Linked DNA regions of Homo sapiens. The protein of the gene in region 1 purifies or fractionates together with the protein of each later gene. This does not show direct contact. Each region holds a gene or a part of one and is shown in the gene's direction. Other genes may lie near its edges.

Evidence for each region. Proteins that work in one complex are often made in the same cells at the same time.
Region 2: the proteins of FAM162A (region 1) and TM9SF4 fractionate together in Homo sapiens (co-fractionation; one large-scale study listed by BioGRID). This does not show direct contact.
Region 3: the proteins of FAM162A (region 1) and IWS1 fractionate together in Homo sapiens (co-fractionation; one large-scale study listed by BioGRID). This does not show direct contact.
Region 4: the proteins of FAM162A (region 1) and NCAPD3 purify together in Homo sapiens (co-immunoprecipitation; one large-scale study listed by IntAct). This does not show direct contact.

What each region holds. Positions count from the first base shown.
Region 1 is NC_000003.12:122,400,695-122,405,529, forward strand, and holds part of FAM162A (protein FAM162A), read left to right. Parts: intron 1-2,065; coding exon 2,066-2,188; intron 2,189-3,563; coding exon 3,564-3,669; intron 3,670-4,835. UniProt on the Homo sapiens protein: Proposed to be involved in regulation of apoptosis; the exact mechanism may differ between cell types/tissues.
Region 2 is NC_000020.11:32,140,213-32,145,047, forward strand, and holds part of TM9SF4 (transmembrane 9 superfamily member 4 isoform 1 precursor), read left to right. Parts: intron 1-1,284; coding exon 1,285-1,453; intron 1,454-1,553; coding exon 1,554-1,683; intron 1,684-2,769; coding exon 2,770-2,893; intron 2,894-4,835. UniProt on the Homo sapiens protein: Associates with proteins harboring glycine-rich transmembrane domains and ensures their efficient localization to the cell surface.
Region 3 is NC_000002.12:127,519,156-127,523,990, reverse strand, and holds part of IWS1 (protein IWS1 homolog), read left to right. Parts: intron 1-199; coding exon 200-315; intron 316-4,835.
Region 4 is NC_000011.10:134,213,134-134,217,968, reverse strand, and holds part of NCAPD3 (condensin-2 complex subunit D3), read left to right. Parts: intron 1-870; coding exon 871-1,033; intron 1,034-4,835.

The sequences.
Region 1 (4,835 bases):
CAGGCGCCTGTATTCCCAGCTACGTGGGAGGCTGAGGCAGGAGAATCACTTGAACCTGGGAGACAGAGGTTGCGGTGAGCCGAGATCGCGCCACTGCACTCCAGCCTGGGCACCAAGAGCGAAACTCCATCTCAAAACAAAAAAAAAAAGACTGAGAATATCGTTACTATATAGAGATGTTCATTGGGGAGAAAGTCAATAGAGTCTTGAATATTCTCGTGATGTGCAGAATAATTGTGTAGAGATTATTTTAAATCATAAATACATCTTATATCTTAATATCTTAAATATGTTTTGTTTTCCATATATACTTAAGATATTTCTATGAAAATGTCTTATCCTAATATTTGCCAGCAAGAGTCTTGTGTAACCTTTTGAAAGTTGAGTAATAACTGTAATGCTGCTTTGCTTATTTTTCATAAAACAGTGATTTTCTTTAATATATCTGAAAATGCATTTTTCATTTATTTTTTCTTATTATTATATGTATATATCAAGTGTGGCATTTGAGAGTCTGTTGATAAAATTTACAAAAGTAGAATTACAATTTTATGTTAATGATGAAAGAATGACTTATAATATTCACCTGATTGTATCTCTTATTTTGTGTGCTTTTGTTAAACATATGTCGATTTATTTTGCCAACATGATTATATAGACAGAGAACTCCTTTTCTTTCAGGTTGGTTCATGTGATCCTGGTTAATGGAACATAAGTGAGATTTTATGGGTGACAGGGAGAGAGATCAGGCTTGACTTGAGAGCACGTGGGAAAAGAAGGGGGCTATCTCTTCGCAAAGATTTAAGTATCTTATAAGAACTGTTTGCCAGTGCAATTATGAGTAAGTGTATTTGTGCCTAATTTTTATTTTTTAAAAGCTCAGGTGATTATAATTTCATCTGTGAAATGTTGGAAGTATAGTCTGATTAAAATAGTATATATCTAAAAAAAAAAAATAGCCATTCTGGCTGGTTGTGAGATGGTATTGCATTGTGGTTTTGATGTGCATTTCTCTAGTGATCAGTGATGTTACTTTTTCTTCTGTATGCCTGTTGGCTGCACGTATGTCTTCTTTTGAAAAGTGTCTGCTCACGTCCTTTGCCCACCTTTTAATGGGCTGGTGTTTTTTTTCTTGATAATTTGTTTAAGTTCCTTATAGAGCTGGATATAGACCTTTGTCAGATGCATAGTTTGCAAAAATTTTGTCTCATTCTATAAGTTGTCTGTTTGTTGATAGTTTCTTTTGCTGTGCAGAACCTGTTTAGTTTCTGCACAGTAAAAGTTAAATTTATTAGATCCCATTTGTCCATTTTTGCTTTTGTTGCAGTTGCTTTTGGCATCTTCATCATGAAATCTTTGCCCATTCCTATGTCCAGAATGGTATTGCCTAGGTTGTCTTCCAGGGTTTTTATAGAGGTTAAATGGTATTTATTAGCCATATAGCGATCATTGTTGAAAATGGGTGATGAGTATATAGGGGTTCGTAATGCTACTATCTGTGCTTTGAGTTTAAATTTTTAAAATAAACTATATATATTATATATATAGTTTTAAAGTTATATGTAGTTCAAAACTACATCTAAAATTGATTTCTAATTAAGGACTTGTGGCTTGCAAGGAGCAAGGCTTTCTAGAGTCACTTGCTGACCACTGCAGCCCCCTAACCAGTTTATCAGCATCGTATTGGCAACTTGGTTACCTAGTTTATCACTTTTGGGAGGTTACTAATCTTTACTTAAACAGCCCTGATGCCATAATACATAATATTGCCACCAGAGCCATTGTTATGATAAGACACATGTGGGAAGTACTTATTTAAAATTTACAGCTGATAACATTTTTATGTTGTAAATTCCTAATTTCCTAATCAATAAAACATTTATATTTTAAAACAGCATCAAGCATAGCACTTTAAATATACTATGTGTATCTTACATATAGTAAATTCATTTCCTAAATGAACTACCTTTTATAAATGAAACGTAACTTGCGGGTATTTCTTATTTTGAGAAAACATCACATTTTCTTTCTTTCTTTCTTTGAAACATTTTCCTCTCTTTTTTAGGAAGCTGTTTTAGGTTATGTGAAAGAGATGTTTCCTCATCTCTAAGGCTTACCAGAAGCTCTGATTTGAAGAGAATAAATGGATTTTGCACAAAACCACAGGAAAGTCCCGGAGCTCCATCCCGTAAGTTTTTATTTTTTCTATTTATGGAGTTGGTAGCTCCCAAAGAGTAGGAAAACTTGGAATCAAAAGAACCCAAAAGAGAAGAGGTTCCTATATCATACCCTCCCATGTAGAGAGAACACATTGTGTTCACATTGTGCATGTGCACATGACCAATATGAGCACAACATGGGAGGCCTGAGGGAGGCCCATGTTCCTACATCATACCTCCCATGTTTTACTCATATGCAGGCCCATCTTCCTACATCACACTTCTCATGTTTTACTCATACGTAGGCCCATGTTCCTACATCATACCTCCCATGTTTTACTCATATGCAGGCCCATCTTCCTACGTCACACTTCTCATGTTTTACTCATACGTAGGCCCATGTTCCTACAGCAGACCTCCCATGTTGTATTAATATTGGTCATGGGCACATGCACAGTGGTTTCTTCATTTTCAGCATTTGTCATTTTCATCTTCTTGCCTGTAGGGTTGGACTGGAGCTTTCTGTAGGAGAATGGATGCACCAAAGTAAATAGTAGTCCAGAAATTATGTTTTAAAGAACTCTAAAGATGAACCAAATTAAGATATTATGCGTTAGGTAAAATATAAGCAGGGCCTTCTCCTTATCACCCTCACTGGCTCTCCCTTTGCACTGATTTTTATCTCTATTCCCGACTTATTAATGAAATGACTCAGATGGCATATATTCCCTTCAGAGTCAGCAAATCTTTAAGTAGTATTCATGCTCTTTCCTTCCCCAACTGGGTCTTTTCCCGTCTTCTTTTAGTTACAATACTGCTGTTGTCTTAGTCATCCAAGTTTGAGGTTCTTCGTGACTCCTTCCTCTTTGTCTTAACCAGTCTCCACATTCTTTCAGTCATCCTCAGACTGACCTCATCTCTCTTTCCACTGCGACAACTCTGGTTCAGAGAATATCCGCTCACCATGGTATTACAGGCTCCCATTTGGACTTTTTGCCCACTCTACCGTGTCCCCCTTTTCTGTCTCCATCCATTGTACAGATAATAAGCCTTCCTAAAACATTAGTTTCTTCCTTGTTTCAAAATGTACAGTAGTTCCCAATCAAGTCTAAACCCCTTAGCCTGACATTCAAGATCTGGTAAAATCTGATTGTACCTTACAAACTTTTTCTTAGTCTGCTGAAGTCAGACAAGCTCCTCACCGTTTCCTTGGGATTTTATAATCTTATTTGGAAAATGAAGCATCCTAAGAAATTCCATTCAAATAAAGTTCTAATTAACTTGAGGTTTCTCAGTGTTTCTGTTTAGTGACTAGTTAAAAAGCACTAATACCATTTTTCTGTTGTTAAATTTGAGAGTTATAATCTCAAACACATAAAATTTCTTGTCTGGTTTTTCTCATAGGCACTTACAACAGAGTGCCTTTACACAAACCTACGGATTGGCAGAAAAAGATCCTCATATGGTCAGGTCGCTTCAAAAAGGAAGATGAAATCCCAGAGACTGTCTCGTGAGTGCTGAATTTAGTATTACAAGCAGCTTTCATTTCTCACTGATCTAAGGGAAAAGCAATGCCTCTGAGTTCCAACTGTTTAAAACTTTTCAACCAAATTTGAAAACATTTTTCACTTTTCCAAATGTTTTATCTTTGGTAAGTACTTGGAATATAAACAATGCTAGAAAACCTGTGTCTTATCATTGTTAAGTTACACAGTGACTGGTGAAGAACTGTCAGGTACTCTGAAGTCAATTGATTATTTGATTTCATCCCCTGGCTACAGAAGTGTGACTTTTTTAAAGTTTGTTTTTAATCTAGGTATATAAATTAAGTACCATTGACAATGACTGTATTCCCCCAAATCCACTTAAGTACTCAACCTTAGGTGTAAAAGTATTTAATTGCAATATTCTGGAATTCAGGAAAGAGTGCTTCCTGTCACCAACTTCCTTAAACCTAAGGGAAGGGATCTTGGCTGGGATCATGGAACTTTTTCAGAGTTTGTAGATGATGAGTGCAGGTTCCTCCAACCCAGTTTCTCAACTCAGTACTATTGATATTTGGGGCTTGATAATGCTTTGTGGCAGGGGGGTGTCCTATTTGTTGGAAGATGTTTGGCAGCATCCCCGGCTTCTGCCCCCTACATGCCCGTAGCATTGCGGCAGTGCTGACAACCAGAAATGTCTCCAGACACTGCCAAATGTCCAAGGGGCACGAGCGGGGTGGGAATCTCCCCTGGTTGAGAACCAGTGCCCTAGCCTCATGTTAAAGACCCTGACTGGCTGGCATCTTGGCTAAAAAGAGATTCTGAGAAATAGATGTCATCTCCTCTGTGAGGCATCATCCTATTCAGGGACAGGGACTTCAGACAAAGCTCGTGGAAGTTCCCTGTCAGCAAGAAACTATTCCTGGATCTTCTGGTCTCTGGTTTCAAGTCATGATTGAAAAAGATCTGAGCTCATTCAGGATTTCTTTCCCAGGGAAATATGTAGTATTTACTTTCTGTTTACAACAGCTTTAATAGAGCTTTTCTGCTTCTGCCAGTCAAATTGATAGCACATTACTTTAACTAGAATTATTTCAGCAGGAAAGCCCTGGTTTTTCTTAGCTCAAGTCATGTATTCTTCTGGGAAATAAGAGAATACTGGAAATAACAGTGACATCAGGTTCTTGCCTAT
Region 2 (4,835 bases), on another chromosome or scaffold:
ATTGTTGAACAGCTCAGAATGAAAGCACCATGGGGTTTGCTTGATAGTCCCTAACTGCTCAGTGCCTGTTAGGGTGACATCTGGCAGCAGTTACTCTGAGGCAAAAGGCACACAAGGGGTGCCACTTCATTGAGTCAAAAGACGTTTTGCCTGAAAATCTCAGGTGCTGGATTTCACCCCACTCCCCTCCCTGCTGGAACCAGGATCTGAAGACACAGAGATAAATAGGAAACAGTCTTAACAGTAACGAGCTCATAGTCAGGTAGGGGAGCCAGAAACATGACTGTATCAGCACATTGTGCAAAGTAAATCCTTGACATAGGAACGGATGCTGATGATAAAAGAGCGTTTGATGCCTGCCTACTCTGTGCCTGCTACTTTATTGGATTGACTTCCTTTATTTCTCACTGTAACCCTGTGAGGTGGATACTGTTATTATCCCATTTTATGGATGAGGACATTGAGGCTCAGTGAGATGGAGTGACTTACCAAGACTGCTAAGGCAGGCAGCCGAGAGTCAGAGTCATCCCTCCACTGCATAATGCTGCCCTCACACAGGGCAGTCAGGGGAGGGAGTGATGGGCTTGTCCTGAAGGGGTTAGGGAGGGCTTCCCAGAGAGAGTGAAATGGAAACTGGGCTTCTGGGGAGGCCAGGAGCATGGGGCAGGGAACTCTAGGAGAAGGAAGCGACTGAGGCCCAGAGGCATAGAAGGATGTGATGCTTGGCTGGGCGCGGTGGCTCACACCTGTAATCTAGCACTTTGGGAGGCTGAGATGGGCAGATCATGAGGTCAGGATATCGAGACCATCCTGGCTAACAGGGTGAAACCCCGTCTCTACTAAAAATACAAAAAATTAGCCGGGCGTGGTGGCATGCACCTGTAGTCCCAACTACTCGGGAGGCTGAGGCAGGAGAATGGCCTGAACCCAGGAGGCAGAGTTCACAGTGAGCTGAGATCGTGCCACTGCACTCCAGCCTGGGTGACAGAGCGAGACTCCATCTCAAAAAAAAAAAAAAAAAAAAAAAAAGGATGTGATGCTTGATGAGTGCTGAGTGCTAAGGGGTCTGGTAGCACTAGAGCCCAAAGGAGGAGGGTGGCAGGTCGAGGTTAGCTGGGACCGTTGGGCGTGAAGCAATGGGAAGGGCATTGGCTGCCAGGCTGAGGCACTGCTGAAGTCCTTGAAAGCCCATGTTTGCCCCGCAGTCCTGTGTCTCTGTGACTCTGCTGACCTCAGCAACCTCAGGGCTGAAGCTCTGAGCTTGATCTGTCTCTCTTACGGCAGGAGAGGTGCTGAGAGGGGACCGGATTGTCAACACCCCTTTCCAGGTTCTCATGAACAGCGAGAAGAAGTGTGAAGTTCTGTGCAGCCAGTCCAACAAGCCAGTGACCCTGACAGTGGAGCAGAGCCGACTCGTGGCCGAGCGGATCACAGAAGACTACTACGTCCACCTGTAAGTCGCCCTGTGCTCCTTGCTGCCTCAGGCTCACACAGGGGAGGACACTGACGGGAGAGGCGGTCGAGAGGGACTGAGTGGGGCCTTCACTTTCCAGCATTGCTGACAACCTGCCTGTGGCCACCCGGCTGGAGCTCTACTCCAACCGAGACAGCGATGACAAGAAGAAGGAAAAAGATGTGCAGTTTGAACACGGCTACCGGCTCGGCTTCACAGATGTCAACAAGGTAGAGTGTCTTTGGCGTGCTCACAGGACCGGGAGCCACACCTCACGAGTCCTGAGCACTTGGGGCCACAGAAAAGGTGGGGCTCGGCCACAGCAAGTTTCTCCAGGTGCCCTGGGCATGATGGTCTGTCAGAGGTCCGAGTGCTCCGGGCAAGTCCCTGGGAGGTGCTACAGGGAGGTGAAGCCACAATTCTTAGGAAGTTAGGTTCCATTTTTGTAAGATTAAAACAACATAAAAAAAAAAACCGTGGAACTTCATCAGTATGTAGGAGAGAGGGCTAAGTAGTGGTCAAGAGCGTGCAGGCTCCCTGGGTTTGAATCCTTCCTCTCCCAGTTACTAGTTGTCTAAGTGACCCTGAGCCTGTGGTTCCTTAGCTGTAAAATGTATGCAGCAGCAGTGGCGGGGTAAATTAGCACATTCGTGTGAGCCCTTCCCAGCACAGCCCTGGAGAATCAGCTAATAATGTGATGATTATAGCCCTGATTCTCTTATCTTTCTTTCTAAACTGAAAGATATTAGTTAGGGAATAAATTACAAAAGTATGTGTTTTGAGGTGCAGCCCCTGTCCCCAAAGGGCGTCTGTCCTAACTGGGAAGAGAACCGACAGTGGGAGGCTCTAAGTCTCCAGTCCCAGCTGCCTTTCACTGGCCATTAATTGCAGGCGAGGTCAGAGGGAGCTCCTTTTACACTCAGGTTGTCACAGAGGAGGTGGGCCATGAGAAGTTGGTGGGCTTTTGCTGAGTGGAGTTGGGGGTGGCATTCTAGTTGGAGTGATTGCAGGGTAGAGACTGGTTCATGGGGCGGTGGGCACAGGGGAGTCTAGGTGAACTCATGTGACTTAGATGATTACACCCAGTTGTATCAGGGTCAGATGATAGAAGGCCTTGAATGCCAGACTTTGAGAAATGGGCTTTTGTCTGATAAGCTGCAGGGAGCCCTTGAAGAGCTTCTGAGTAGGGGAGTGATGAGAACAGTGTTTTAGGAAGGTTGGTACAACCAGGCATGCTGGGTGAGGCAAGGGCCCTAATACCTGGAGAGTATCCCTAAGTGATGTTCTGTTGTGCTTTCTCTGTTGCTGTGTTTCAGATCTACCTGCACAACCACCTCTCATTCATCCTTTACTATCATCGGGAGGACATGGAAGAGGACCAGGAGCACACGTACCGTGTCGTCCGCTTCGAGGTGATTCCCCAGAGCATCAGGCTGGAGGGTGAGTGGGGAGGTGTGGCCGGAGGGGCAGGGCTGGATGGGCCTGGGCTTCTCCACGCAGGGTCTTCGCACTCTTCTCCCTCCTGAGCTGGCCGATGGGCTCGGGTGTGGCGTGTGGGCCCAGCCAAGGTAGGATCATGGTATTCTCATTAGAGAAGACGGGGTGTGGGGGCAGCTGACAGCTGCAGTGTCACGGGCTAGACACCTTACTAGTTTACCCCTTCCCAGCAACCCCAGGAGGTACGTGATGATTACAAAGGAAGAACTAGAGGCTCAAAAGGAGCTAGTGACTTGGCCAAGACCAAACAGCAAGTTGGGGCTTTGTTGGGCCTCCTCACAAGAACCAGCCAGCTCACCCTGGGTTGAGAACAAGGGGCCAGGGTACAGACAAAGCCTGTAGGCAGCAGGTTTCTTCGTTCCTCTCCCGCTGTGTGAGTGATTGGCATAAACTAAAATTTGCCCAGGGTCAACAGGTGTGCGGGAGTTTGAGAGTCCAGCACAGTCCTGATGGGCCTCACAGGAGCTGGTCCGGCTTTGCCTCACCTCTTGGCCCTTGATCATCACAGTGTGCTTTTTAATTAAGCAGCATGCCCAGGATTTTGACCATGTTGGTGGTATTTGGACTTTTTTTTTTTTTCCACTGTGGAACTTAGTGTTCAAACAAAATTAGACACAGAAGTCCCAAACATAGATCCTGCCCTTCAAGAGCTCCATAGCACATCTCCCCTGGGAGCTTCCCGAGCGCAGTTCTACGTTTGCATGTGTGACGCTTTTGAGGCCACCTGCTCCCCCACTGGCTCTTCAAGCTTAGAGTCTCCCTGTCTCCTTTTCTTACCATTTTATCTTTTTTTTTCCCCCCAAGACAGAGTCTTGCTCTGTCACCCAGGCTGGAGTGCAGTGGCGCGATCTCCGCTCACTGCAACCTGCGTCTCCTGGGTTCAAGCAATTCTCCTGCCTCAGCCTCCTAAGTAGCTAGGATTATAGGCGCCCACTACCGCACCTGGCTAATTTTTGTATTTTTAGTAGAGACGGGGTTTCACCATGTTGGCCAGGCTGGTCTCAAACTCCGGACCTCGTGATCTGCCTGCCTTGGCCTCCCAAAGTGCTTGGATTACAGGCGTGAGCCACCGCGCCCAGCTCACCATTTTATCTTAAGCACCTAGCACAGTACCTGGCCCATAGTTGGTGCTTATTATATGTTGTTGGTTGAATGAGTAGATGGATAACAGGATGAACAGATGAGCAAATGAATGGAGAAAACATCTGAATGATTGATCACGAAAGTGCCAGGGCTTTAGAGATAGACTAAATGAATGAGTAGGCATGATGGAATGGATCAAGGTTTTATGTTGAATGGGACTGGCTGGATGGTAGGTGAACGTTTGAATTGAGTGAAGGAACACTGACTCAGGGAGGAACTCCGACTCAGGCCCCTCCCTTCCCCCATGCACAGGCCTCTCTGCAGCCCCTAAGGACCTTCAGAAAGTCAGGGCTCTGAGGAATAATTTTCAAAAACCATTGTTGGCCAGGCATGGTGGCTCACACCTGTGATCCCAGCGCTTTGGGAGGCCAACACAGAAGGATTGCATCAGGCCAGGAGTTCAAGACCAGCCTGGGAAACATAAAAGGACCTTGTCCCTACAAAAAAATGTCTTAAAATTAGCCAGGTGTGGTGACACACACCTGTAGTCCCAGCTACTCCGGAAGCTGAAGCAGAAGGATGACTTGAGCCTAGGAGGTTGAGGCTGCAGTGAGCTATGATTGTGCCATTGTCTGCGTGACAGGGCAAAACTCTATCTCTAAAAAAATAAGGTTTAAAAATAAAAAATGAAAAAAAACCATTGTTGCCCATTGTGCTCCCAGTCTCCACTCCCACCCTAGAGGCTGGGTCTCCGCGACAGGCAGCCTTGAGGGCAGCCCCTGGAATAGCCCCTGGGCAGTGG
Region 3 (4,835 bases), on another chromosome or scaffold:
CGTATTTCACAGTACATGTTATGCTTGTTGGTGTTTGTATGAGTATTGTATTACCTTATTCAAAATATTAGCAACTTTAGTTAATGCTTCCTCAGTGGTAACTTTTGCACTTACGTTATTCTTGATTCAGTGTGTTCATTTCACTGTAGATGTCATTCATCTTACACCATAAGTTGGTTTTTGTTTTGTTTTTAATCAGATGATGGTGGTGCTACCCCAGTACAGGATGAACGGGATTCAGGGTCAGACGGTGAGGATGATGTAAATGAGCAACACTCCGGATCAGACACTGGAAGTGTAGAACGTCATTCAGAGGTATTGGCTAACCAACATCTTTGGGAGGGCTTTTCCCTTGCGTTCTGTGAGATCTGTTATATTATAGGAGTTACAGAATCTCTGTGACAGAGTTTAGGGTTTAATCTCTGAGAGTAAAGGAGCATAAGTTAATAGAAAACCGCTTGAAAAATAAATAGGGATGGTCTGGTTACTGTTGAAATCACAGTGAAATATGTTCTGATTGGGTCACATTTCAAATGTTAGGCAGTTTTCAACTGTGCATATTGATTCAGAAAATGGGCCCGGCCTTTGATATTTGACTAAGTTTCCCTATTCTGCAATAATGTCATAGTGGGGCATTGAGCATTTGCAATCTGAAGAAACACCACTTGAAATAGAAAGTTATGGGGGTTATCACCTGTCAACATTTATGTCAGCATTTGCCCTTCTGATTTTGAACTGTTACGGTGTATATAATGTATGTAATAATAATGCTTTTTTTTTTGAGACAGGGTCTGACTCTGTAACACAGGCTGGAGTACAGTGGTGAGACCTCGGCTCACTGCAGCCTCTGCCTCTGGGCTCAAGCTATCCTCCCACCTCATAGCCTCCCGAGTAGCTGGGACTACAGGCACAGGCCACCACGTCCAGCTATTTTTGTTTTCTTGGTAGAGATGGGGTTTCACCATGTTGGCCAGGCTGATCTCAAACTCCTGACCTCAAGTGATCTGCCCACCTCAGCCTCTCAAAGTGCTAGGATTACAGGCGTGAGCCACCACACCTGGCCTGCAAATATAATTTTAAGAGCTGTTTTTGTTTAATAATATGTAATAGTATTGGGTTTTGTGTACATTTTAACGTATTTGCTCTAATACATAAATATTTCAGAACTGCTTTATTTTCCTTTCTGTTTATACATCATGTTAACAAGATAAAATTGGGAAATTTTTCAATAAGTTCGCCGTAAGTCTTTGGTAGATACGACTGAAACAAATAGGAATGATAAAGATGCAAAGATTTAAGAACTTTCTATGCCTTATATTTTTCTTGATTACACATATGCAGAAAATTGTCCAATTTTTAGTAGGTGTGATTAGAGATTATATTGACTCTGTCCTTTGACAGCAACATTAGCATATCATACATTCAACAGGTATTTATTGAGCACCTAATATGTGTCAGACTTTTTGCAGGTGCTTTGGACTTATCAGTGACTAGAAGTTAAAATCCTTCTCTTCTTAGGTTTGTTTTTCCAGTAGGAGGAGAAAGACATTAAGCAATAAACATTTTTTTTTAATTGTGTAGTCTGCTAGAAGATAACAAATGCTGTGAAGAAAACAGATAATTAGAACAAAGGATGGAGGGCAGGCTTTGGTGTTAAATAGGGACCATATAGGTCTTTTATTAAGAAAGTGACATTTGAACCAAGGTGTGAAGGGAGGCAAAGGAATAGCCGTGTGGATATGGACGTTTAGGGGAAGAACATCCCTGGCAAAGACCCCAAGGTGAGAGTGTGCTTGATATCTTCAAGGAGCCAGTGGAACTGAAATGGGGTCATTAAGGGGTAGGGGAGGTCAGAGAACTAAATGCGGGTGTGGAAAAGGCTCATCTTTTATATATTTTGATGTCACTCAGGTTTTTTCTGTGCTTTTAAACATTCAGAATAAATTCCAATATTTTAATTGATAGTTGGAAGTTACTTAATAATGTATATGTTGTTACAGCCAGTGCATTTAGTGCATGATATTTTAAGTTTCCTCTTTGGAAACAGCATTCAGAGATTAATCATGGTCAGTTTAGAGCCCAGTAGGGTAGTCATCTCATGGCCTCATGGTGCAGTTACAAGTTCAGGTTACCCTAAGCATCTTTGTTTTTTTATAATATGGATTCTAAATAAATAAGTGTGGCTGTTTTTGAAAATTTGGAAATCACAGACTGTCCCAGACTTAAACTATAATTTGACTTAAAAATTTTCAACTTTGCGATGTTGCAAGTGCTGTATGTATACTTTGAGTACCCATACAACCGTTCTGTTTTTTCACTGTATTCAGTAAATTACATGAGATACTCAACATTCTATTATAAAATAGGTTTTGTGTTGGGTGATTTTGTCCAACCGTAGGTCTTACCTCTGTAAGTGTTTGGAGCACATCTAAGGTAGGCTAGGCTAAGCTGTGATGTTTGGTAGATTAGATGTATGAAATGCGTTTTTGGCTTAATTATATTTTCAGCTTACTATGGGTGTATCAGGCTGTAACCCCATAATAAGTTGAGGCACTCCTGCATCTGTGAAGTTTAAAGAAAAAAATTAAAACCAGCATAGTCCAACTACAGAAATGACTATGAGCCTTTTCACATTATTTATCCTGCAGTTTCATTCTGTCCCAGGTATATGACGTCTATATATTTTAACTTTACTTGAGATGTTATTATATATATTTTGTGTCTTTCTATGTATATATTTTGAGACAGAGTCTCACTCTGTCCCAGGCTGGAGTGCAGTGGCATGATCTTGGCTCACTGCAACCTCCGCCTCCCAGGTTCAAGCAATTCTCCTGCCTCAGCCTCCAGAGTAGCTGGGATTACAGTGCGCTACCACGCCTAATTTTTAGTATTTTTAGTAGAGACAGGGTTTCACCATGTTGGCCAGGCTGGTCTCAAACTCCTGACCTTGTAATCCACCGGCCTTGGCCTCCCAAAGTGCTGGAATTACAGGTGTGAGCCACTGTGCCCAGCCTATGTATTATTTTTTATCTCTTCACTTAAGATGATACTTTTAAGTGTTTCCCCACGTCATTAAAGATTCTCAATAAGCGTAATGTTTAATGGTTTCACAATATGGATGCAGCATCACTTATTCAGCAATTTTCTAATTGTTGTCATTTATGCTGTTTAGCTATTGTATTAAATAACTGAAGCTGCCCTGAAGATTTTTGTACATAAACATTTGTGATCATTTTTTATTGTTTCCTTAGAAAGCTGCCAGGAGAATTAACGAGATTAGAGACTAAGACATTTTAAGGCTCTTCATAGAAATTCCTCTCCAGGAAGGTTATGGTAATTTGCTAAACCACTAGTACTTCAAGAGTGCCAGTTGTACTGTGTATAAGTGTTGAGTTCTGTATTAATGTTCTTTTGCCTGTTTAAAATGGCTTTTAAGAAGACATTTTGTTTTCTCATTAAACATTTTTTTTTAGAAGTAATGGGATGTTAAAAGAGTACGGTTGCATTAAATGAAGCAGTGCAAAGGCCGGGCGTGGTGGCCCTTGCCTGTAATCCCAGCACTTTGGGAGGCCGAGGTGGGTGGATCATGAGGTCAAGAGATCGAGACCATCCTGGCCAACATGGTGAAACCCCGTCTCTACTAAAAATACAAAAATTAGCCAGGCATGGTGGTTTGCGCCTGTAGTCCCAGCTACCTAGGAGGCTGAGGCAGGAGAATCTCTTGAACCCGGGAGGTGGAGGTTGCAGTGAGTAGAGATCACACCACTGCACTCCAGCCTGGCGACAGAGCGAGACTATGTCTCAAAAATAAAAACAAAACAAAAAAAATGGGGCAGTACAAATTACAGGTCCAAAGCCTGAAAGATACTAGTTTCCTCTTGAGGCTGTAACAACTTGATACAACTTGGTGGCTTAAAACAACGAAAAATTATTATCTTATAATTCTGGAGGTCAAGTCCAAAATGGGTCACACTGTACTAAAATCAAGGTGTCCCAGGGCTGTGTTCTTCTCTGAGGGAAGATACATTTCCTTGCTTTCTTCAGTTTGTAGTGGCTACCTGCATTTCTTGGCTGAGGCTCCTTCCTCCATCTTCAAAACCAGCAGCATAGCATCTTCACAACTCATTTTCTGACCTCTTGTTTCTGTCATCATATCTCTCTCTTACTCTGACCTTCCTGTATCCCTCCTGTAAGAACCTTTGTAATTATAATTGGGCCTACCTGGATAATCCAGGGTAATGTCCCTATTTCAAGGTCCTTACCTTAATTACATTTGCACAGTCCCTTGCATGTAAAGTGACATATTCACAGGTTCCAAGGGTTAGAACGTGGACATTTTTGAAGGGCCATTATTTTGCTACCATAAGATGGTACTCACAGCATAATTTTCCCAATAATGGTATTTTTTTTTTTAAACCCCTCATCTGTATTTTAGAATTTAGGCTAGTATTTTTTTTAAATTCATTTCACCTATAGTATTTACTCAGTGCACACACACGCACACACACACACACACAATCTTTAAGATAGTGGTCAGTATAGGAAATACTGATAAGATTTTGAAGACCAGTAACTTTTGCAGATTTCTTAACCACTTTATTAGAAAGCTCCTTTAGTTATTAAAAAAAAAACTTATTTTTTCTTAAAGTAATTGTATATGTCTATAAATAATCTCAGACAGGTGACAGAACAAGTCTCATATCAGACTACCTTAAGAAAACAAGAGTTTACTGTAACACATGTATGTAATGGGCTGTAAATCTTTCTGTCTAGGTAGCTTGTTCTGTCCATCTGTCATTGATGGCCCTGCCTAATGGCCATTTCTAATAACATCT
Region 4 (4,835 bases), on another chromosome or scaffold:
GTGCCACCACGCCCAGCTAATTTTTTATTTTTTGTGGAGACAAGGTCTTGCTTTGTTGCCCTGGCTGTTCTCAAACTCCTGGGCTCAAGCAGTCCTCCTGCCCTGGCCTCTCAAAGTGCTGGGATTACAGGCATGAGCCATTGTGCCCAGTGGAGATGATTTCTCCCGTAAGTTTTTTAGTTAAGGAAAGGAGAGTGCTCTGCTCACTTGAATTTTGTGGGCCTTTTTTTGTTACGATACTCAAGGATAAACCATATTTAGTTCCTGCTATGTTTAGGTTATTAAAATAACCCATTTCTTCTTCATGTGTTTAGTAGGAGAAGACATGGAATGAAGATAGAATTAATACAATTGTGGTTTCTTTTCTAGGGTTTATCTCCTTTACCTGGGCCATTTCCGAGATCTCTTTCATTTCCTGCTCCCATTGCCTGCAATCTGCAGAACATTTAAATAAAGGGCTCTGATTTCCTCAGTTAGTAATTATTGGTAAAGGAATTTGAGTTCCTTTTAATATAAATAGAGGGATAACTTTCCTGAATAATCACTAATATATGGTGTCCCAAAAGTCTTAGTGTAGTTTTAAGCTATAATTTCTGAAGTATATATGCTACAAACTTAACAAAAAATTCTTTTGAAAGTTTAATTATTTAAATATGTTATATACATATTTATCTTGGTAATTTTGAATAATATACCTTTAATTTTGATATTTTGTTTCAGTCCCTTTGAAGATGGTAAACATTTAGCAGTAGGAGCCAGGCTACTCTATTCCTCTTTTTGTAAGGCACCAAGAACTTACAAAAATCAAATAATAGGAAATGTTTCCATTTCTCTAATGACTGGCTTTTGTGATTTGCGGTCTCCCCACAGAGTATCTGGACCTTCTTCATTGAGAACAATGTTTCCCATAGTACACTGGTGGCATTGTTCTATCATTTTGTTCAAATAGTTCATAAGAAGAATGTCAGTGTACAGTATCGAGAATATGGCCTTCATGCCGCTGGGCTTTACTTTTTGCTACTAGAAGTACCAGGTATGTAGACCTGATATGATAGGATAAATCTTCTGTCATTTTTTTCTTTCTACAGTTTTCAATTCTTATACTTTGTTTCTTGTTTCTTCACTTATAAATGGGGCAGTGCTAACCCATGGCAGAGAGTTGTTGCGAGGAGCAAGTCTCTAAAGTACATGGCATGTTATAGGTCTTGGAAAACCTTCCCCCTTTTTTTTTTCATCCGAAGTTATGCTATCTATAAACTAATAAAAATAGTCTGAGAAGGAGTGCAAGAGTTCCACGCCCACCCTCCACCACGGCCGTCTAAAATTCTGATATTGCCCTTTCTTCTCATGATTCCTTGTCTAGACTGAGAAATACTGCTGTGGGGAGTCATTGCTTTTTACCTCTCCGATGTTGGTATTGAAAAATAGATTAAAACCATTCTAATCAAGAAAGCAGGAAAGCAGCTAGTAATACTTGAAGGAGAGCACTGACCAGGAGTCTGTTTTCGAGCACTGTTTTACTTGATTGTCAGAGCACTGAGGAGGCTGTTCCTCCTATGACAGTGAAATCCATTCTCTTCCCTACTCCAAACACAGGGTGAGAGAGAGTGGAACATAGAGATTGAGTCAGATAACCTGAAGTTCATATGGAAAAGAGAATGGCAAGATCAGTCACCTTGCTGCTTATCTTTGTTTAATTACAAATGTTTAGCAAAGGATTTATTCCATGTGATCTGGGAATGGGCAAAAAGGTCTTATATTTAAAGCCCTGAACATTGATTTGTGTTGTTGTTAATGCTCCCATCATGACTTTGGAAATGAGTAAGTTCCTAAAGGATTTTGTTGCTAAGCAGTGTCTCGGTTGTAACTAGGCCCTCTCTCAAAAAAGTAGTGGTTTTAGAAACCCAGTTTCACTCTCCTCTTGCCAGATGCAGTTTCTTCTGATTAAGGTTGAGATTTATGCCAGAGCAAAGAGGTGGCTGTTACTAATTGCGTGGGCCACTTGCAGCTTTCCAGCAAGCCGTATTCCTGCCAGTTACCTTCTGTTTTTAAATGTTTCGGGTTTATGATTGGGATGCTGTCGATACTTAACATTCGATCACAGTATATTCTTTTTCAGGATCGTTTTGGTTGTTCTGCCTCCCTTGCATTTCCATGTGAATTTTAGGATCTGTACGTGAATTTCTGCAACAATAAAAAAGCCAGCTGCGGTTTTGACAGGGATTGCATTGAAACTGTAGATGAGTTTGTGAAGTATTGCCAATTTAACAACATTAGGTCTTCTAATCCCTAGCCGCAGGATGTCTTTCCATTTATTGTAGATCTTCTTTAATTTGTTTCAATAATGCTCTATAATTTTTGGTGCGCAACTCTTGCATCTCCCCTTTAAAATTTATTCTTAAGTGTTATTTTCAATGCTAGTGTAAATGAAATTGTTTTCTTAATTTTATTTTGGTTTATTAGTACTGTATAGAAGCAAAATTGATTTTGATTATTGATCTTCTATCCTAGAACCTTGCCAAACTCATTTGTTGGTTCCAACAGGGTTTTCTTTGTGTAAGATCATGTCATCTGTGAATAGACACAGGTTTACTTCTTTCTTTCTAGTCTGGGTTCTTTCTATTTATTTTTCTTACCTATTTGCCCTGGCTAGAACCTCCAGTACAGTGTTGAATAGAAGGGGAGCGTGGGGATCCTTGTCTATTCCTGATCTTAAGGGGAAAGCATCCAGTCTTGCCTTTAGGTATGATGTTACCTGTGGGTTTCTCAGGATGGCCCTTATTAAGTTATTATTCCTAGTTTACTGAGTGCTTCATTATGAAAGGCTGTTGGATTTTGTCATTCGCTTTTCTGCACTTGTGAAGTGCTCATGTGGTTTTTGTTTCTTATTCTAATATAGTATATTACATTGGTTGATTTTCACATATTAAACCAATTTTGTATGACCTTGGTCATGGTGTATAATCCTTTTTATATGTTGTCAGAGTGTTTGCTAATATTTTGTTGAAGGTTTTTTGTCTATATTCATAAGGGATATTCTTTTTTTGAGATATTTTTGTCTGGTTTGAGTATCTGGGTATCTTGGTAATACCATTTTCATAGAATAAGTTACATAGTATTCCCTTCTCTTCTGTATTTTGGAAGATTTTGGGTTTTCTTTTTTCTTCAGATGTTTGGTAGAACCCACTAGTGAAGTCATCTGGGCCTGGAGTTTTTTGAAAGAAGTTTATGTTTGTAGAATTTCTAGTGATCTCCTCTCATGCCTGATGTTGGTGATTTGTATTTTGTTTTTTCTTGATCAATCTAGATCGAGATTTATTCATTTTACTGTTCATTTTGGAGGGCCCCCTTTTGATGTCATTAATTAAATTCTGTTGTTTGTCCCTTTCTTGTTTCATTGATTTCTGGTCTTATGTCTACGATTTCCTTTCTTCTTACTTTGGGTTTAATTTGCTCTTATTCTGACTTTTTAAGGTAGATGCTTAGATCTTTGTTCTCACATGCATTTCTTTGTTTCTAATACAAGTATTTAATACTATAAATGTCCCTCCAGGTACAGCTTCATCTGCATCCCACAAATTTCGATGATATGTTTTTACTGTTGTGCAGGCCAAAGTGATTTTCAAATTTTTCTTGTCATTACTTACATCTCTGAGTTGTTTAGTAAATTGAGTTTATTTTCCAAATATTTGAACTTTCCTGAAATCTTACTGTAATTGAGTTTTAATTGGTGGGATCAGAGAACATACTTCATATGATTATGATACTTTTAAATTATTTAGTTGTGCCTTTTTTTTTAATGGACTTAGAGTCTAATTTGGTGAATCTTCCATTTGCACTTTAACAGAATGTGTACCTTGCCTTTGTTGGATCTAGTATTCTGTAAATGTCAGTTAGGTCAAGTTGGTTACAAATGTTATTCAAGACTTACATATGCTTCCTGATGTTCTGTTTATTTGTTCTATCTGTTGTTGAGAGAGGAATGTTGGAATCTCTAAGAATAATTATCAGTTTATCTATTTCTCCTCTCAGTTCTTTTAACTTAAGATATTGTGAAAGTCTGACGGATACAGATGTATTTATGATTGTCATGTCTTCCTGATGGATTGGTCCTTTTAGTATTATGTTATGTCCTTGTTTGTCTGGTTATATTCCTTGTCTTGAAGTCTACTTTGTCTAATACTAAGATAGCCACTATAGTTATCTTAAGATTTGTCCTTGGTTGGTACATCATTTCTCATGCTTTTATTTGTAACCTATCCATATGTTTATATTTAAAGGTTTTCTTGTAGACTGCCTGTCACGTGGTCATGGCTTTTCTTTTTCTTTTTTTTTTTTTTAAGAGAGACGAGGCCACACACGGTGGCTCACACCTGTAGTCCCAGCACTTTGGGAGGCTGAGGCGGGCGGATCACTTGAAGTCAGGCATTTAAGACCAGCCTGGCCAACATGGTGAAACCCCGTCTCTACTAAAAATACAAAAATTAGCCGGATATGGTAACACGTCTGTAATCCCAGTTACTCGGGAGGCTGAGGCAGGAGAATCGCTTGAACCCAGGCAGTAGAGGTTGCAGTGAGTTGAGATCGTGCCACTGCACTCCAGCCTGGGTGACAGTGAGACTCTGTCTCAGAAAAAAAAAAGAGAGGTCCAGGGTCTCAGTCTGTCACCCAGGCTGGAGTGCAGTGGCAATCATAGCTCACTTTAACCTTGAACTCCTGGGCTCCTCAGCCTCCAGAATAGCTGGAACTACAAGTGTGAGTCACCATGACAAGCTAATTATTATTACTTTATTTTATTTTTGTAGAGACAGGGTCTCGCTATGTTGTTGCCCAGG